Linked DNA regions of Homo sapiens: region 1 is linked to region 2. The links come from fine-mapping of genetic effects on gene expression. A gene starts in region 2. The other region holds a variant in brackets. All regions are shown on one strand. Distances are between the middles of the regions.

Region 1 (10,404 bases), 45 kb before region 2:
GGCGCACACCTGTGGTCCTAGCTACTCGAGACCAGCCTGGCCAACATGATGAAACCCCATCTCTACCAAAGATATAAAAATTAGCCAAGCACGGTGTCTTATGCCTATAATTCCAGCACTTTGGAAGGACAAGGTGGGCAGATTACCTGAGGTCAGGAGTTCGAGACCAGCCTGGCCAAGGTGGTGAAACCCCATCTCTACTAAAAATACAAAAATTAGCCAGGCATGTTGGCTGGCGCCTGTAATCCCAGCTACTTGGGAGGCTGAGGCAGAAGAATCGCTTGAGCCCAGGAGATGGAGGTTGCAGTGAGCTGAGATCGATCCACTGCACTGCAGCCTGGGCAACAGAGTGAGGCTCTTGTCTCAAAAAAAAAAAAAAAAAAAAAAAAAAAAAAGACTACTGCCAACAATCACAGGTTTCTACCTGGCAAAATAGGCCACAGGTAAAAATCAAAAGTCAAACAGTAAATTGTGGGAGGGGAATGGGGGGAGTCTAAAACTCACATGATTAAGGCCTAAGTTCTCTAATATGTAAAAAGCTCTGACAAATCAATGATAAGCCACTGTCCAGTACAAAGTAAGCAAAGGATAAGAACTAAGCAAAGGTTAAGAACTGAGGGTTCACAGAAGAGGAAAAGCAGGGCTGTGGCCTGGGAGGGTAGCTCATACACGCACGCCCCTTGACCCAGCAGTTCTATTTTGGGCACTGATCCCTCAGGCATCCTTGAGACAGGGGCACAAGCTTGTCATAGCAATGGTGTTCGTAACAGCAACAGCTCAGCCACTCCCAAGACGTCCATGAAATAACCTACTCAATCTCCTCAGCTGAGCCCTGCACAGCCGAAAAAAGGGGTTCAGGCTGCTTCATGCTGACTGATATCGGGTGAGCCTCTCTATATGGAGGTGAGGATAAAAATCAGGAGCAGAACAGGGCATGAGGTGAGCTGTCCTCGTGTGTACAAAACAGGGCAGATATGTGTTTGCCGGTATGTGCTGGAAGGAGCTAGGAGGGTGCGTTTCACTGCAGACCGTGTTAACACAGCTAAAAAGCAAACAAAAACTGGGCAACATAGTGAGTATACAAAAAATACAAAAAAATGAACTGGGTGTGATGGCTGGTGCCTGTAGACCCAGGAACTCAGGAGGCTGAGGTGGGAGGATCATTGCAGCCCAAGAAGGCAAGTCTGCAGTGAGGTATGATTGCGTCACTGCAGTCCAGCCTGGGTGACAGAGCGAGACCTTATCTCAAAACAAGCAAAGAAACAAACAAAAAGGCGCCGGCGTCTTTGAAATAACCCAAAAGCGAAGTGGGAAGAGAATACAGGCAGGAGGCCGGGTGGGTGCGGTGGCTCACGTCTGTAATCTCAGCACTTTGGGAGGCCGACGCGGGTGGATCACCTGAGGTCAGGAGTTCGAGACCAGCCTGACCACTATGGTGAAACCCCGTCTCTACTAAAAATACAAAAATTAGCCAGGTGTGGTGGCGTGCTTCTGTAATCCCAGCTACTCGGGACGCTGCGACAGGAGAATTGTTTGAACCAGGGAGATGGAGGTTGCAGTGAAAGCCTAGATGGTGCCATGGCACTCCAGCCTGCAGCCTGGGCGACAGAGCGAGACTCCGTATCAAAAAAAAAAAAAAAAAGAATACATGCAGGAGCATGGCGCTTTCCCAGTCCTGAGAGACCATCAGTCTCCCTCAACCCGGAGACCAGCTGCTTACAACCGAGGGAGGCACGGCTTCTCCCCATTTCTGCAGGGACAGCAGTGAGCGCCGGGCTCCTGGGTCCTTCCAGGCAGAGCTGGGGGCGACGGGGCTGGAGCATCTCCGACCCGGCTTGGCGTTGGGGGGGGCGGCCCAGCCTGCGAGGCCGCGCATGCGCAGGAGGCCGGGGCGTGTGCGGAGCTCGCCGCAGGGCCCTCGCTATGGGGCTGGGGCTGGGACTGCGCCTGCGCCGAGGCCCGCTGCCCGCCCCCGCCCGCCCCCGCCCGCCCGCCTCACCAGCTTCCTCTGGGCACGGTGCCAGGCCTCCTTGATCTCCTTCCTGCGCTTCTCGTGTTCAAGCCGCCGCAGGGTCAGGGGCTGGGGCGAGACGGGCCGTGAGTGGGTACCCCGGTGACACCCCCGCCCAGCCCGCCCTCCCGGGCACCACGCACCTGCATGAAGGTCTGGGTCTGCAAGGTGCCCACCGCCTGCACCATGCTGTGGCCGAACTCCAGGTCCTGCTCCAGGGCCAGCGAGTAGATGGACAGGAGCGGCATGTGGGGCTGTGGGTGGGGCACCGGCTCACTGGGTGGGGAGGGATGGAGGCAGGGCGGCCCCAGCACCCCCAGCCACCAGCTCCCTGGTCCCTGCAGCCACCCCCGTTAATGTAGAGGGGAAGCCCCTGCTCTTGGTCCCTGGGCCCTTGAAATGGGGCTGAGACTCACACCCGGGCCCAGGGACCCCCGCCCCGTGCCCGCGGGGCCCCCACCTCCTGCATGACGCTCTGTCTGCAGTTGTGAGCGATCTTCTGCAGGCCCTTGGCAAACTCCATCTCTGCGGGCCGGAGAGGGGTGTGAGGTGCTGGGACAAGGCCTTCCCAGCTCACCCAGAACCCCCTCCCTCCAGACCCACCCTGCTGGGACACCAGCTCTCACCCAGCGTCGTCCGCTTCTCCAGGTAGCTGATGAGGTCCTTCATGTACTTGGCCATGTTCTTGGCATACAGCAGTGCGGCATCCACGCCCCCCTCACAGCGCTGTAGCAGCACGTCCACCTCCTCGGCGGGCAGGCAGCCTGCAGGGAACGGGGGCCTGCTCAGCCTGGCCCGACCCGCGCAATGGCCCACCCCTCAAATGCCTGCCTGCCGCTGGGTGGGGGCTTACCGGCGTCACAGTCTTCCAGGCTGGGAGGCGTGCCCTCACTGCCCGGTCCATACAGGCTTTCCATGGACTGTAGGACGGAGACGCAGGTGAGACCAGCCCCATGCGGGGCCCTGGGCAGTGCCCACCCTTCAGGGGACGGTTGCTGCCTCCCCCAGAGAGGGAAACCAAGGCGCACAGGGGAAGCAGGGTGACTGTCTGGGCCCTGCAGACCTGAACCCGGCTGGCCTCCAGAAGCTGGACACAGGTGGCCCTGGCCCACCCCACTCACCTGGCTCGAGTCCCCAGGAGGCACTGCTAGGAGGGTGCTGCTGTCCACTTCACCCATGAGGAACTCGGACACTCTGCAGGGCCAGCGAGGTCACCATCGAGAGACACCCGGGCCCCCCACGCTCCCTTGCCCTGCCCCACAGGCTCCCGTGCTCACGTGCTACTGAAGGCCACAGCAATCGTCTCCAGGGCCTTCTCGAACTCCTGTTTCTCCAGATCATTGTTGCTCTCATAATGGAAGGCTGGGAAGCAGAGATAAGGACAAGGAGGTGGGCCCACTCTGGGAGGTGACCATCCCTGCAAGAACTGACCGGAGCCCTTAACCCAGGGGGAACAGGAGGGAGCTTGTGCCTGTCAAACTCCTATGCATCCTTCAAAACCCACTTCAAACATCCCCTCCTCCAGGATGCCCTTCTAGGCAGAGAGCCCTCGCAGCCCTGTTCCAGCAGGCTGACCTTTGACCTTGGCAATGAGGGTGCCGGCTGCGGTGAGCGTCTCCACGGTGTTCAGCAGCGGGTACTTGGAGATGATCTGATGCATGACACGCAGAGCCTCACCCAGGCACTCGTGGGCCCGCGGGCGGCGGGCCTCAAGGAGGTCTGCTGGGGAGAGTCGGAGTGAGCAGTGGGGTAGGGCCCAGTCCCAGGGAAAGTCTGTCCACCTCCTCCCTCTTTAGAGCTCCTGTTCCCAGATGGGGAAACTGAGGCAGAGGTGGAAGACGGCAGATGCCTGGGGCTCATTTCGAGACCGCGGGGAGGGCACTGTCCCTCCCTGGGCTACCGGCCAGATCAACAAAGGCCAGACGTTGGCCTAGGCACTCTGCTGCTCAGAACACTCTTTTCTTGTCCCTCCAGAAAGCAAACTGCCTCTTGTCCTTCAAGCTACAGTCCTGCAGCCCCTTCCTCCATGCAGCCCACCAGGCTCCTTCCCTGCCCTAACTCCTCAGGACTGCTCAAAGCCCTGTCCAGGTCTCTCTCTGCCCTTCCTAAGTGAGGAAACTGAGGCATAGAGAGGGGAAGCCATTTCTCAACAATCACACAGCTTTTCCATCTACGCTAGCTCTGAAGGCGTGAGAACGCCAGGCAGAGGGATCCTGCCTGGCTTTATCTCCAGGGCAATAGGGAGCCATAGAAGGTGTTAGAACAGAGGAGGTCAGATCTGACTGTTGGAACCTGGCTTTCACTGCCCTCCTCAGCCAGGGGTGGTGGCTTACACCTGTGACCCCAGCACTTTGGGAGGCTGAGGCAGGAGGACGGGTTGAGCCCAGGAATTCAAGACCAGCCTGGGCAATACAGTAAGACCCTGTCTCTGTAAGAAATAAAATAAAGAATAAAAAGCTAAATGCCCTCATCGAACGTTCTCAATTGGAAGAAGAAAAAAGCAGAGAGGGCCAAGCACAGTGCCTCATGCCTGTAATCCCAGCACTTGGTGAGGCCGAGGCAGGCAGATCACTTGAGGTCAGGAGTTTGAGACCATCCTGGCCAACATGGCGAAACCCTGCCTCTACTAAAAATACAAAAAGTAGCAGCGTGGTGGCACTCCTCTGTAATGCCGGCTACTCGGGAGGCTGAGGCAGGAGAATCGCTTGAAGCTGGGAGGCGGAGGTTGCAGTGAGCCGAGATCGCGCCACTGCACTCCAGCTGGGTGACAGAGTGAGACTCCTCCATCCCAAAAAGAAAGGAAAGAAAAGAAAGAAAGAAAAGGAAAGAAAAGAAAAGAAGGAAAGAAAAGAAAAAAGCAGAGAGTACAGGCGAAACATCGAGAGCCAGGCACACACCACGTAGTGGAAACAAACCCACGGAATTCGTAGGAGGGGAAAGGTACCCGGGAGGACAGAGGCCAGCGGGAGGGGCAGCTTTGACGCCTGACTGTACCGCTCAGAGGATGCCCCAAATACGAAATGAAATCTGAAAAAGTAAGTGCCCCATCCCTTTCGGCACCGAAGACCCCAGGTGAATGTCACCTCCGGGAAGAGACCGACCGAGTCACCCGCCAGAGATACCCCGCTGGCCGCCGCCGGGCCTGAGACCCCGGACCGGAACATGTCTTCGCTGCTGGATGCGAGGCGGACTCCGGGAATGGGATTGGGGCTCCAGGAGCTCCGGGAAGCCGCTGGGAGGCCCCGGCCACGCCCCTTCTCGGGACCTTCCAGCCGGGCACCCGGCACTCCGCGCGCGGCCGGCGCACGGACCCCCGGCTGTCCCCGCACACCCCCTACCCGGGAAGCCGGCGGCCGGCGCGACCCCTGCGCAGCGCAGGGATGCCCAGGTGCGCACGGCCAGGCCAGGCGCGCGGCAGCCGCTGCTCCCCCACCGCGGGCGGCAAACGGCCCGAGCGCCACGTGCTCCCGGACGCGGCGGGACCCAGCGCCCGGCACCTGTCCCCTCACCTCGGGGGCCCGCCCGGCAGCGCACGGGGCCCTCGTCCAGCACCGGGTGCGCCGTCCCGCAGATACACATGGCGCAGCCGTCGGGGCGCGGAGACCGCGAGCGCGTGGGGCCTGGCAGCTGACCGATGGGGGTCTCCGGTGGCCAAACCGGCTCCGGCCGGTCAGGAGGCCCCGCCCCCGCGAGGGAAACCCCGCCCTGGGGTCCCGTTCGCCCCAGCCTGGGTCCTTCCTTAACCGCAGAGCTTCGAGGTGGGGAGGGTCGAGGACGGGCAGGGAAACTGAGGCCCAGACCTGAAGCCCGGGAACGAGGAAGCCCGGGAAGTGTCGGGGTGGCACCGTCCATGTGGGTCCCCTCCTAGCTGCCTGAACGCGGGTCCCCAAGCTGTGGGGTGGACCCCACAACCATCGCTGCATGCAGGTGGCCCCATTTTATAGATAAGTCACCTGACACCTAGAGAGGGAAGGGGCTTGCCAGGGTCTCAGCAGCTGAGAAACATCGGGACTAGAGCCCACATCCTAGCCGCCAGGGTCTTCTCTGGCCTGGGGCGGCCCCGAGACGCACAGAAGGCGCCCCCAGCCGGGCGCGGTGGATCAGGCCTGTTATCCCAGCACTTTGGGAGGCGGAGCCGGGAGAACGGTTTTTAGCTCGGGAGTTCTAGACCAGCCTGCGCAATATGGGGAGACCCCGGTCTCTACAAAAAATACAAAAACTGGCCGGGCGCGATGGCTCACGCCTGTAATCCTGGCGCTTTGGGAGGCCGAGGTGGGTGGATCACTTGAGATCAGGAGTTCAAGACCAGCCTGGCCAAAATGGTGAAACCCCATCTCTACTAAAAAAAAAAAAAAAAGAAAGAAAAAAAATTAGCCGGGCACGGTGGCGCGCCCCTGCAATCCCAGCCACTCGGGAGGCTGAGGCAGAAGAACCACTTGAACCCAGGAGGTGGAGGTTGCAGTGAGCTGAGATCTCGCCCCTGCACTCCAGCCTGGGTGACAGAGTGAGACTCTGTCTCAAAAAAAAAAAAAAAAAAAGAAAAGAAAAGAAAAAGAAAGAAAAAAAGAAAAGCCCGGGCACGGTGGCTCATGCCTGCTGTAATCCCAGCACTTTGGGAGGCTGAGGCATGCGGATCACGAGGTTAGGGGTTTGAGACCAACCTGGCCAATATGGTGAAACCCCATCTCTACTAAAAATACAAAAATTAGCCAGGTGTGGTGGCACGCACCTGTAGTCCTAGCTACTCGGGAGCCTGAGGCAGAAGAATCACTTGAACCCGAGAGAGGAAGGTTGCAATGAGCCGAGATCGCGCCACTGCACTCCAGCCTGGGCGACAGAGTGAGACTCCATCTCACCATCTCAAATAAAATAAATAAAATAAAATAAATCAGGTGCAGTGGCTCATGCCTGTAGTCTCAGGTACTCGGGAGGCAGAGGTAGGAGGATGGCTTGAGCCCAGGAGTTCAAGGTAACAGTGAGCCTCAATCACACCACTGGACTCCAGCCTGGGCAACAG[A/G]GCAAGACCCTGTATCAAAAAAAAAAAAAAAAAAGTGCCCCACCCTGGCTGGCCCAGTTCAGACCTCCTGCAGGAGCCTGGGAGCTGAGCCCCGCCCAGGCCAGGCCTCCAAGGAAGCGCCAGGATCGGAAAGGAACCGAGATTAGGGTTTCCCCAGGAAAGCAGCCTAGCCCCCGCCCCTGGGACCAGATAACCCGGGGGCTCCCACTCCTCCCAGTGGGGACCGGGCCTTCCCCAACTAGTGCCCTGAAGGTGCAGAGGCCACTCCACCACTTGAGGTCCAGTCCTGGCTCTGCCCTGCCCTGGCTGGGTGAGCCAGGGGTCAGGGCCTCACTAGAGACTTAGTTTCGTCATCTGTAAAATGGGCGGCTGCTGGGAGCAGATCAGAGCGCCTGGCATGACCCTGGCACTGTGGTTTCTGGGAGGAGCCGGGGGCTGAAGGCAGCACATGAGGTGCCCGCCTGGGCTGCCAGGGACAAACAGGAAGCAGATGAAAATAACTCGGCAGGAAGCAGGGCTGTCAGCGGCCGCGTGGAGGAGAAAACGGAACTGCCGGCCTGCAGGCCGCTGGGTCCCAGCACCTCCGCCGCCTGATGACCCCATCCTGCCCCTCGCCATGCCTCCTGAATCTCTCTCCACCCAGACCTCAGCCAACCCCCAGTTTGCTTCATTCCAAGACACAGATCTGCCCCCATCTGTCCTGTGCTCTAACACCTTCTATGGCTCCCCATTGCCCTTCTGCCTGGCGTTGTCATGCCTTCATCCTACACCAGCGGCACCCCACACCTTGGCCCCCAAATGCATTCTCTGTTTCCGTGTTTCTGAGCCTGTGCATGGGACATTTCCTCTGCCTTTCCCTCCTAATTGCCATCAGATCCTTTAAAAAAAATAAAGTGGGCACCCTCTTGAGCCAGTGTACGCTCAGGGACTCCCCCACCAAACTCCTACACATCCCTCAGAGCCTTAGCTGTCATGGCCTCTTCCACACAGCCCTCCCTGCCATCTGAGCCTCCCTCCCTTCTGAGCCTCCCCAAGTCCCTCCCTCCATCCTCCCTTGGGTCTGGCTCTGTCTTCCACCCAGGCCTCGGTGTCCCCGTGGCTCTCACCGTCACGCAACACACACTCCTTAAGTTTCTCAAGGCCCTCAGCGAAGCGGGCCACGTCCGCCAGCAGATGGGAGATGTCCTCGACGACGTCCGGGCCGGCACCCTCGGTGGGCAGCTCGCCCGGGCTGGCGGCTGTCAGTGGGCTCCGGTGGCTCCGGCCCAGTGTCCAGGAGGCAGCACCCGACAGGGGGAAGCCAGCCGCGCTGGCGTGGCGGCTCAGGCTGGTGGGCCGCTTGAGGGTCCCTGTGGCCTTGACGCCGGAGGACCCAGCGGGCGGCTCCAGGCTTGGTCCGGGGAACACCGCGTCAGCCCCATCCTTCCTGGGCAGCTCCTTGGGCAGGTCCGAGGGGAGCTCGTTAAAGGGATTTTCCGGCCTGGACACGGCCTCAGTTTCCCCAGAAATGAAGTGGGGCTGTGGAGGGCCACCATCACCCTGACCCCACAGGGGTCAAAGGCCAGAGGTCACAGGGCCGAGATTTGGTAGTGTACCCCCCCACCTGTTACCCAACATCCTCTTCCCTAGAGCTTTCACAAACAACGGTCCTTGCCCAAACCACAGCCGGGGCGGGGCCTGCGGGGAGGCGCGGGAGGGGGGTCCCCACTTCCTGGTGGGGGTGGGGAGGGTCCTCAGCCCTTCAAGCCCCCCTCAGGCTCCTACAACGCAGGTGCTTTAAGTGAACACACTTCTGACTCTGTCTGTCCCCTAAAGGTCCATGGAACCCCAGAGCCTATGGGCAGCCCCAGGCCTTGTAGACATCCCGGACCCCCAAGCTCTGTAGACCCCCCCCCCAGCTTTGTAGACACCCCAGGCCTGGGGACACTCCCCAACCTCTGAACCTGGTGGATCCCATTAGAGGATCTGCTGCCCGGTCAACCTTCAGCCCAATGGCCAGGCCACAGCCCTCCCATCTCAACGGCCCCTAGAGCCCCCAGATTGCCTAAGCCCCCAACCTGCAGCGGCCCAAACACAACATCGTCCCAACCCGGCACCCTCCCTTCCTGCTCCCTGGGCCCCGCGGCCAGCCCTGGATGGAGTGGAGGGAGGCGGCCACCACTCCCAGGGTCCCTACCGTGAGCTGAATGCCGGGGTCCCGGCCTCTCTGCTGTGGCCCCTGCCGTCCCGCCCGGTAGGGGCTGTAGCTGGCACGAGCCCCCAGCCGCCGCCCCAGCATGAGCCCCGAGCACAGGGCGGGTCCCTGTCCCCCTGCGGCCCGGCGTCAGCTCCGGGTCTCACCCGGGCTCCACTCACCCCCGAGGGCTGCGGGCTGGGGCTTCCCGCGCGGTTCTTTTTCGAGATGGAAGGGGTTTTCATGAGCTCTCGTTTCTTCCTGGAGAACATGATGGGGCCCCGGCCGGGAGCCCGAGGGGGCGGGCTGGGGGTCTCAGCGCTGCAGCTCCCGGCGCTGGCCGCTTCGGGACCACATTGTCGCCGGCCACCCCCTCCCCAGCTGTCAGGCCCACGTGACAGGCCCGGCCGTCACTGGCGGGCCCTCCCCCCAACAGGAAAAGGCTTCGGGGAGGCGGCGACGCGGCCTCGCCCCCGACCCTTCCCGGCCTCAGCCTGCGGCTCTGCGGAGTGGGCGCGAAGGTGAGGTCGCAGGCCCCGCCCCCAGCCCCGGGCCGCGCCCCCCGCTTCCGCCTTCGGGAGCTCGGAGCCGCGCCGCTCGCGGGGTGGGACCGGGAGCCCCTGCCTGACGCTGGCGGGCACGGGGCGGCCGACTGCAGGGCGCTGACTCTCACTCCCGGACGCGAGTGGGCGTGCACAGACACGTGCACGATGACACGCAGAGACCCGGACCTCCACACGCGCTCAGACGCCACCAAGCCCCTGGAGCCTCGCCCTCAGACCCCAGACACACGCACAGGCCGAAGCTGCGCCCCTGCAGCCCCCTTTTCCCTGAAGGCAAGCCCGCTCCACCGCCTCTCCTGCAGACCCTAGGGTGTGGCCGGGCCCCAGCAGGGCCGGGCAGAGTAGGGTCCCCCCCATCACCCGCCCTGCAGCCCCGTGAAGTGGGTCAGGTCGAGGACAGGTGGGGAAACTGAGGCCCAGAACCGAAACCCTGGGGGCAAAGACGTCCAGGAAGTCAGAACAATCCAGGTTACCGGGCCCTGTCCGTCTGGGTCCCCACGTCCGTCTGGGTCCCCACGTCCACCTGGTCCTGGGCTGCCTGCACAGGGGTCCCCAAAGTGTGGTGTGGACCCCACCATCGGCAGAATATGCTGAGGACACCTGGTTACCTCTCAGCAGCCCTGTGGGCCATATCATGTTG
Region 2 (9,052 bases):
TCCTTCAGGCCCTTCTGGAAGTCGGGGCCGATGGAGAGGCCGGTGAGTCCCTCGATCCAGGTGCGGAGCTCTGCCTCCTTCTGGGGGTCATATTTGGACAGGAGCTGGTGGAGCAAAGGGCACGAGACTGAGCTGGGCTGGGGGCACCCCCAGCAGGAACCCCACAGAAGCTCTGCAGAGGGTGGGGCCGGGGACTCCAGGGCAACAGCAGATAGAGCGGCCTGGAGGTCCCCCCTCACCACACCCACGCAGATGCTCCCTTTTCCCATCATTGGGGGCGCCCCAGCCACTGCAGGCGGGCACAGATAAACCGCCCTCCAAGCAGGCCGACAACCGGCTTAGAACTCACTGATAAACATCAGCTCTAATCCACTCCCGGTGCAGGACAAACCTGGCCGGATCTGCCTCCCCGCCCTGCCTTCTCACCTCCCCGCTATATCACACCTGACGTTTACCACTTCAACCACCTGAAACCGCACCATTTCACAGCATTTCGTACGTCTGCAATGTTGTGCAACCATCAGCTCTTTTTTCTTTTTTATTTTTTTTGAGACAGAGTCTCACTCTGTCGCCCAGGCTGGAGTGCAGTGGTGCGATCTCGGCTCACTGCAAGCTCCGCCTCCCCGGTTCAGGCCATTCTCCTGCCTCAGCCTCCCGAGTAGCTGGGACTGCAGGCGCCCGCCACCAGGCCCAGCTCATTTTTTGTATTTTTAATAGAGACGGGGTTTCACCGTGTTAGCCAAGATGGTCTCCATCTCCTGACCTCGTGATCTGCCCGTCTCAGCCCTCCAAAGTGCTGGGATTACAGGTGTGAGCCACCGCGCCCGGCCCCCATCCTGCTTCTTAGCAACTCCCGAAGGAGCTGCCCCCGAGGCTGACCGCCTCTAGTCACGCACCTGGCTCCTTGCCACCGATTCCCTGCCACCTTTCTGCACCCGGCCATTCCAGCTTTCTTGGCCTTCGGTGCTCTGAGACACCGCCGTGGGGAATGGGCTGTGTGCTCCTGGGCAGTGGGTGTGCACCAGTGGGGACCTCGAGTGTCCCTATCCAGCCACTAGTGACCGCGGAGACAGCACTGAGGCAGACGGCAAAGTGTATAGGGGGCCATAAGCATGGGGGCAGGTCGTGTAGCGGGAGCGGGAGATAAACGCTGGAGGGAGAATAAAGTAGGGTTTGGGCTGGGTGCGGTGGCTCACACCTACAATCCCAGCACTTTGGGAGGCCAAGGCGGGCGGATCATCTGAGGTCAGGAGTTCGAGACTGGCCTAGCCCACATGGTGAAATCCCGTCTGTACTAAAATACAAAAATGAGCTGGGCGTGGTGGTGGGCACCTGTAGTCCCAGCTACTTGGGAGGCTGAGGCAGGAGAATCGCTTGAACCCAGGAGGCAGAGGAGGCAGTGAGCCAAGATCGGGCCACTTCACTCCAGCCTGGAACAGAGTGAGCCTCTGTCTTAAAAAAAAAAAGAAAGAAAAGAGAGAAGGAAAAAAAAAATCAAATCCCTCTCCCTGCTCTGCACCCATCTCCCCAGGTTCCCGCGGACAGCTCCCCACTCAGCCTCCGCTTCCTCATCTCTTCCTGGGATTATTTGGGTTAGGGTCCCCTGACCTGGACCTGCCTGGGATGATTTGGGTTAGGGTCCCCTGAGCTGGACCTGCCTGGGATGATTTGGGTTAGGGTCCCCTGAGCTGGACCTGCCTAGGATGATTTGGGTTAGGGTCCCCTGAGCTGGACCTGCCTGGGATGATTTGGGTTAGGGTCCCCTGAGCTGGACCTGCCTGGGATGATTTGGGTTAGGGTCCCCTGAGCTAGACCTGCCTGGGATGATTTGGGTAGGGTCCCCTGACCTGGACCTGCCTGGGATGATTTGGGTTAGGGTCCCCTGAGCTGGACCTGCCTGGGATGATTTGGGTTAGGGTCCCCTGAGCTGGACCTGCCTGGGATGATTTGGGTTAGGGTCCCCTGAGCTAGATCTGCCTGGAATGATTTGGGTAGGGTCCCCTGAGCTGGACCTGCCTGGGATGATTTGGGTTAGGGTCCCCTGAGCTGGACCTGCCTGGGATGATTTGGGTTAGGGTCCCCTGAGCTGGACCTGCCTGGGATGATTTGGGTTAGGGTCCCCTGAGCTGGACCTGCCTGGGATTATTTGGGATAGGGTCCCCTGACCTGGACCTGCCTGGGATTATTTGGGTTAGGGTCCCCTGACCTGGCACCTGCCTGGAAACAGCTCGTAGCCCAGAGGAGGCAAAGGCGGGGAGGCCCCCCAGTACCAGCTCACAGCCCACCCAGCTTGGCTTTCCACGCCCGGGGGCAGCCCCGCCCCGCCGGCAACTTTGATCCCGAGGAATGAGAACGGTGGCTGCTGGGTACACAGCCCTGCCTTGCCCAGCTGCGCCGCGTCTCTGCCGGCTCAGGGGCCCAGGTCCCCTGGCCCCACCCCCAGCCGCTGCCGTCCTCCCCCACCCCCGCCCCCCCGCTGCCCGGCCGCCGGCCTTCCAGCACATTCCTGTTCACCACAAACTGCCAGGAATGCGCGCTGCCTCCCCGGCTAAATCTGAACCAGCTGTTCCCAGCGGGTCCGGACCCCCAAGCCGGGATGCAAGGCCGCAGACACTGTGGATCCGAGCTGCCTCCGTGCCGTCCAGCCGGGAGTCAACTGAGCCACGGGGAAGCGGGGCGGGGGGCGGGTCTCTGGCTGTTTCAAGCAGCCGGTAAAGCGGGTGTGAGCGGGAAGCCAGGGGGAAGCTGGTTTCTAATTGGGAGGCGACCCTTCCGTGACCCTGGCAAGCTGGCCGACGCCTCGCCCACCCTCCAAACGGACAGACTGAGGGTTGCGCGGGGAGCCTGCTAAGCGGCTCTTCCAGCCTCTGTCCTCACCCCCGCCAGGGCAGGTATCAACCTGCCCCCACCCCACCCCACCCCGTCTCCGGAAGCCGCCCCACCCTCCTGTGCCCGCTCCCACTTCCGCAGGCCCAGCAGGTACTGGGTTCCGGTCTTGGCCCTGTCACTTGTGGGCTGTGTGGCCCTGGGCAGCTGGAACGACGTCTCTGGGTCCCTGTGGACACCGGTGCCCTTAGCCGGCTGTATGCAGGGTGCGGCAGGGTGCCCACCCCACTGCACGGGGGGCTCTATGAATGCAGGGTGCAGATGGCCCCTTGAAGGAGGAGTCGTGAGCCCCGGGCTGGGGACCCTGGCTCAGGCCTTGACCACCCCAAGCCTCAGCCTCCCTTTTTGGCCAAGAGCTGGTCTGAAGGCTTGCAGGGGCTCACAGCGGGGAAGCAGGAATTCTCCCTCCAGTCTGCCGGCCCTGGAGTGCCGCCGGGCAGGTGGCTGTTGGGGCTGGCAGGGCCGGTGCCCTCAGAGCGTGCAGAGGCAGTTTCCCCTGCAGAAGTCAGCTGTAAGGACACCTTCCCAGGTGCCCAGTGGGCGTCGGGGGAGGGGGTGGGCGGGGACGACACCCCCCTCCAGCTGGAAGGTCCTGGAGGGTCAGGTCCCGGTCCTGTCCGTGGGTCTCGCATCACAACCCCCGCCCCCCACTTTCCCTGGGAATCCTGTCCAGGACCCTGCTGTGTGACCCTGCAGAAGTGTCTGGTCCTCTCTGAGCTAGAACCACAAGTGCTCTCTTAAAAAGTGTCTCCCCTAGCCCTGGCTTGTTTTTAATTATAGAGATGGGGTTTCGCCATGTTGCCCAGACTGGTCTCGAACTCGCTGGGCTCAAGCCATCCACCCAGCTCCGCCCCCCAAAGTGCTGGGATTACGGGCGTGAGCCCCCGCGCCCTGCCGGGCCCCAGCTCTTCTTTCGAGGCTGCAAAACCCCACATATCTCAGGGCCACCTTCAGAGAACCTCTTTGTTATCCGTTTAAATTAGTCAGATGGGAGACAAAGACCGTGCAAAGCGGCTACCGCCCCTCCCCCCAAGACACCCCCAAGGTGTCCCAGAGGCCAGGAAATTCCTGTTTGTGGGGGGGTAACACTTCTCAAAAACCACTCGGCCATGCCCCTTCCCCTCCCAAAGCTAAGAGGCCCCAAAAGCAGAAGTGTGGCCAGGAGATGACGGGGTTGCTGGGGTCCCCCCCAGACCCCCAGAGCGTTGTCGGACCTTGAACGGACCTTCTCGAAGGTTGAGTGGGCGCCAGGGGCTTCACACGTGGGGGTCCTGGGGCCATGGCGAGGGGACGAAGTCAGACCCAACTACCCCTAGATGTTGGGGGGGGGAATGGGTCACTCGTCCCCCAGATCTCAGACCTGGGTGCTCCCCAAGATTCGCGGGAGCCTCAGGGGGTGCCCGCAGACATCCCCCCACCAGGCGTCAGGGAGAACAAGGGCCCGTCCGCCCCGGGTCTCCAAGCTCCCTGCCCGGGAGGTGCCGGGGGCGCCTGGGGGCTCCTGCACCGGTCGGAGCGTGCGACGGCCGCGCTGTCGGGGGGACAAGGGGCGCCCCTCACTCACCCGGTTCTTGACCTCGGCCGACAGCCCGTACGAGGGGCCCTTGTTGAACTGCGTGGAGCTCATGGCTGGCGGGCGGGCGGCGGGACGGGGCCGCACAGGACGGGACGGGACGGGACCGCCGGGCTGGCGCGGGGTTGGGACGCGCCGGGCTCCGCGCGCCACGCCCCCGCCGCTGATTGGCCCGGAGCGCAAATGTCCTTATAAGGCCTGGAGGCGCCGAATTCCTGCGGCCGCGGACTTCCTGAGCCCCCTCGGTCGCCCCCGGACCCCCGCCTGGGCACAGCACCCCCGTCACCAGAGGCCTGGAGGGGCCCCTCGCCCCCTTTGATGCCACGGGAAACTGAGGCAGGGAGGGGCCGAGGCCGCCGGGACGTGGCACTCCTGCGGGCTCTCTGCTCAGAGCTCGTGGGCGGCTCTCACTCTTTCTCCATCTCAGACTTCTCTTCTGCCAGAAAGGGGAGGGGAGAAGGCTACCTTTGGGGCAGGAATGAGGGCCCCTCTCTGCCACTTAGAGGCGTCTAACCCCTTCCCAGGGAACTCTACTAGCTGGGAGGTGGACCAGGGAACCAGGGCAGGTTCCTCAGAGAAGGGGCCATTGGAGCTGGGGCTTTGTTGGATGAGTAGGAGTTTGTCAGTCCAAAAGAGAATAGGATTCTTACTGGGTGCGGTAGCTTGCACCTGGAGTTCTAGCTACTTGGGAGGCTGAGGCCGAAGGGGGAGGATCCGTTGAGCCCAAGAGGTCGAAGCTGCAGTGAGTTATCATCACAACATGACGCTCCAGCCTGGGCAGCAGAGCAAGAGCCTCTCTCTAAAAATAAATAAATAAATAAAAATAAAAATCCGAGTGGCTCACGCCTGCAATCCCAGCACTTTGGAAGGCCGAGGCGGGCGGATCACTTGAGGTCAGGAGTTCCAGACCAGCTTGGCTAACATGGCGAAACTCCGTCTCTACTAAAAATACAAAAATTAGCCGGGCATGGGGGCACATGCCTGTAATTCCAGCTACTGAGGAGGCTGAGGTGGGAGGATCACTTGAAGCCAGGAGGCGGAGGTTGTAGTAAGTCGAGATCGCGCCACTGCACTCCAGCCTGGGCGACAGAGCAAGACTCCGTCTTAAAAAAAAAAACAAAAAAAAAAAACACAAAAAAACCCTAATAATAATAAATTATTAAAAAGTCTCCGGGACAGTCTCCTGCCAGGCAGTGCTGGCTCTCAGGAGACCTTAGCTCTGGCCCAGCCCATGCCCAGGAAGACAGAGCTGGCACAGACCAACCCCCAACCCGGATTCCCTGTATGAGCCAGCACAGGCGGAACCCCCCCACCCCGCCCACCCTGTTTCCCTATATGAGCAAGTACAGGACAGAATGAGAGGCTTGGGGCTGGAGGAACTGGAGGGAGAGTTGGGGCTCTGTCGGAGGAATCAAGGAAAGCTGCATGTAAGAGGAGGCAAGGGAGATGGGGTTTTGAAGCATCAATAGGAGTTTGACACATTTTATTTTATTTTATTTTATTTTATTTTATTTTATTTTATTTTATTTTATTTTTAGTAGAGATGGGGTTTCACCATGTTGGCCAGGCTGGTCTCGAACCCCTGACCTCAGGTGATCCACCCGCCTCAGCCTCCCAAAGTACTGTGATTACAGGCTTGAACCACTGCACCTGGCCGACCCATGTCATTTTAGACCAGTGCTGACCATTTCTGTTATTCTGAGATGAAGGAAATTTTCAATGTGGCACTATCTACTACTGTAGCCACTGGCCATGGGGCTACTGAGCACTGGAAGTGTGGCTGGTGCCATCAGGGAAGCAAATACTTCATGTTCTTTTTATTTTATTTTATTATTATTTTTTGAGACGGAGTCTCGCTCTGTCACCCAGGCTGGAGTGCAGTGGCGCAATCTTGGCTCACTGCAAGCTCCACCTCCTGGGTTCACGCCATTCTCCTGCCTCAGCCTCCCCAGCAGCTGGGACTACAGGCACACCTCCACACCCAGCTAATTTTTGTATTTTTAGTAGAGACGGGGTTTCACTGTGTTATCCAGGATGGTCTCGATCTCCTGACCTCGTGATCTGCCCGCCTCAGCCTCCCAAAGTGCTGGGATTACAGGTGTGAGCCACCGCACCCAGCAAATACTTCCTATTCTTAAATTTCAATTAAAAATTAAAAACTGGCACTAGATTCCATTTTTTGAAGACACATATATATAAATACACATATATATGTAGCTGGGACTCCGAGTAGCTGGGACCGTAGACACGCACCACCACGCCTGGCTAATTTTTGCATTTTTAGTAGAGATGCGGGTTTCACCATGTTGGCCAGGCTGGTCTTGAACTCCTGACCTCAAGTGATCCGCCGGCCTCAGCCTTCCGAAGTGCTGGGATTATAGGTGTCAGCTGCCGTGGCCGGGCTATTTCAATTAATTTCAGTTAAAAATTAAAAACTGACATGATTTCCGTTTTTGACTATATATATATGTACACACACATTAAAGTTTTCAAATACATAAATACACACATATGTACACATTATACATATAAATGTAAATATATAGATATTTGAAACAGGGTCTTGCTCTGTCACCCAGGCTGGAGTGCAGTGGTGCAAATATAGTTCACTGCAGCCTCGACCTCCTGGACTCAAGTAATCTCCTGCCTCAGCCTCCTGAGTATCTGGGACTACAGGCATGTGCCATATGCCTAGCTAATTTTTAAATTTTTTGTAGAGATGGGGTCTCCCTATGTTGCCCAGTCTGGATTCAAGTGATCCTCCCGCCTCAGCCTCCCAAAGTGCTGGGATTGCAGGCGTGAGCCACCGTGCTCAGCCTCGTGTATATTTTAAATACCTTAGCGTTTCTGAATTTTCCTTTTCAGTATAAACGCTGTAAATCTAAATACTGTGGAGATAAGTATTTCTGAGGAAGCACTGGTATCCATATTGGAACACCCCATGGATGGGAAACACACCAGATTCTGAAGACTTGGTACATCTCAGTTACTTTTTTTTTTTTTTTTTTTTTGAGAAGTAGTCTCGCTCTGTCACCCAGGCTGGGGTGCAGTGGCGTGATCTCGGCTCACTGCAAGCTCCGCCTCCCGGGTTCAGGCCATTCTTCTGCCTCAGCCTCCCGAGCAGCTGGGACTACAGGCGCCCGCCACCACACCCAGCTAATATTTTTGTATTTTTAGTAGAGACAGGGTTTCACCGTGTTTGCCAGGGTGGTCTCGATCTCCTGACCTCGTGATCCGCCCGCCTCGGCCTCCCAAGTGCTGGGATTACAGGTGTCAGCCACCGCGCCCGGCCACTTTTTTTTCGTTTATGAGGTGGGGTCTTGCTCTGTTGCCCAGGCTGGAGTGCAATGGTGCCATCACAGCTCACTGCAGCCTCCAACTCCTTGGCTTAAGCAATCCTCTTGCCTCAGCCTCCCAAGTAGCTGGGACCACAGGCACACACCACCGTGCCCAGCTAATTTTTGGTATTTTTCGTAGAGACAGGATCTCATTATATTGCCCAGGCTGGTCTTGAACACCTGGGCTGAAATGATCCTCCCGCCTCAGCCTCCAAAAGTGCTGAGATTACAGGCATGAGCCACCGCGCCTGACCTTGTTTGGATAACTTGAGATGTGTAAAATATATTATTAAAATTAATTTCACTTGCTCTTTTTTAGTTGTTTTACTGTGGCTACCAGAACACTTAAAGTTATGTTTGTTATTTGCTTATCTTTCTCTTGGAAAGCTGTGTTCTTGACCTGTGGGCCAAATCCAGCTGCAGCCTATTTTTGTATGGCTTGTGAGCTAAGAATGGCTCTTACATTTTTAAGTGGTTGAAAAAAAAACCCAAAATATGAAAACCATTCTATCAAACGTGGAAATTACATAACATTCAAATTCCAGTGTCTGCAGACAAAGCTTTATTGGCACACAGCTGTGCCCATCCATTTATGTATCATTTACGGCTGCGTTTTCTGTACAACAGCAGAGTGGAGTAGTTACTCTACCCAAAAAAGCTAAAAATACTGACTGTTGGCTTTTTTACACTTTATTTTTTAGAGACAGGGTCTCACTTAGTCATCCAACCTGGAGCGCAGGGATACGATCATGGCTCACTGCAGCCTCCAACTCCTGGGCTCAAGCAGTCCTCCCACCTCAGCCTCCCAAGTAGCTGGAATTACAGGCATGCACCAACGTCCTCAGTTAACTTTTAAAAACATTTTTTTGGGGGGGCCGGGCGCGGTGGCTCATGCCTGTAACTCCAGCACTTTGGGAGGCTGACGCGGGTGGATCACGAGGTCAGGAGTTCAATACCAACCTGGCCAAGATGATCAAACCTGGTCTCCACTAAAAATACAAAAAAAATAGCCGGGTGTGGTGGCGGAAGCCTGCAATCCCAGCTATTCAGGAGGCTGAGGCAGAGAATTGCTTGAACCCAAGAGGCGGAGGTTGCAGTGAGCCGAGATCACGCCACTGCACTCCAGCCTGGGCGACAGAGTGAGACTGCGTCTCAAAAAAAAAAAACAACACAAAACTTTTTTTTGGCGGGCTTGGTGGGTCACACCTGTAATCCCAGCACTTTGGGAGGCCTAGGCGGGCAAATCACCTAAAGT

The links. PIP is the estimated chance that this variant, and not a neighbour inherited with it, causes the effect.
Region 1: its variant is fine-mapped to the expression of CNN2 in whole blood (INTERVAL, PIP above 0.99).

What each region holds. Positions count from the first base shown.
Region 1 is chr19:1,066,475-1,076,878 of GRCh38, reverse strand. ARHGAP45 (Rho GTPase activating protein 45) reads right to left here and starts at 9,712. Exons shown (of 23, transcript NM_012292.5): 1 at 9,384-9,712; 2 at 8,135-8,465; 3 at 3,587-3,730; 4 at 3,289-3,373; 5 at 3,133-3,205; 6 at 2,865-2,931; 7 at 2,638-2,775; 8 at 2,472-2,536; 9 at 2,155-2,265; 10 at 2,000-2,080. The coding sequence starts at 9,473. RefSeq lists enhancers at 1,115-1,409, 7,413-7,572, 9,763-10,269 and silencers at 1,781-2,310, 2,321-2,430, 7,963-8,062, 8,593-8,832, 9,143-9,902. The variant A/G (reference allele first, on the strand shown) is at 7,029.
Region 2 is chr19:1,022,123-1,031,174 of GRCh38, reverse strand. CNN2 (calponin 2) reads right to left here and starts at 4,567. Exons shown (of 7, transcript NM_004368.4): 1 at 4,451-4,567; 2 at 1-104. The coding sequence starts at 4,513. RefSeq lists silencers at 2,615-2,790, 4,280-4,919 and an enhancer at 4,910-5,641.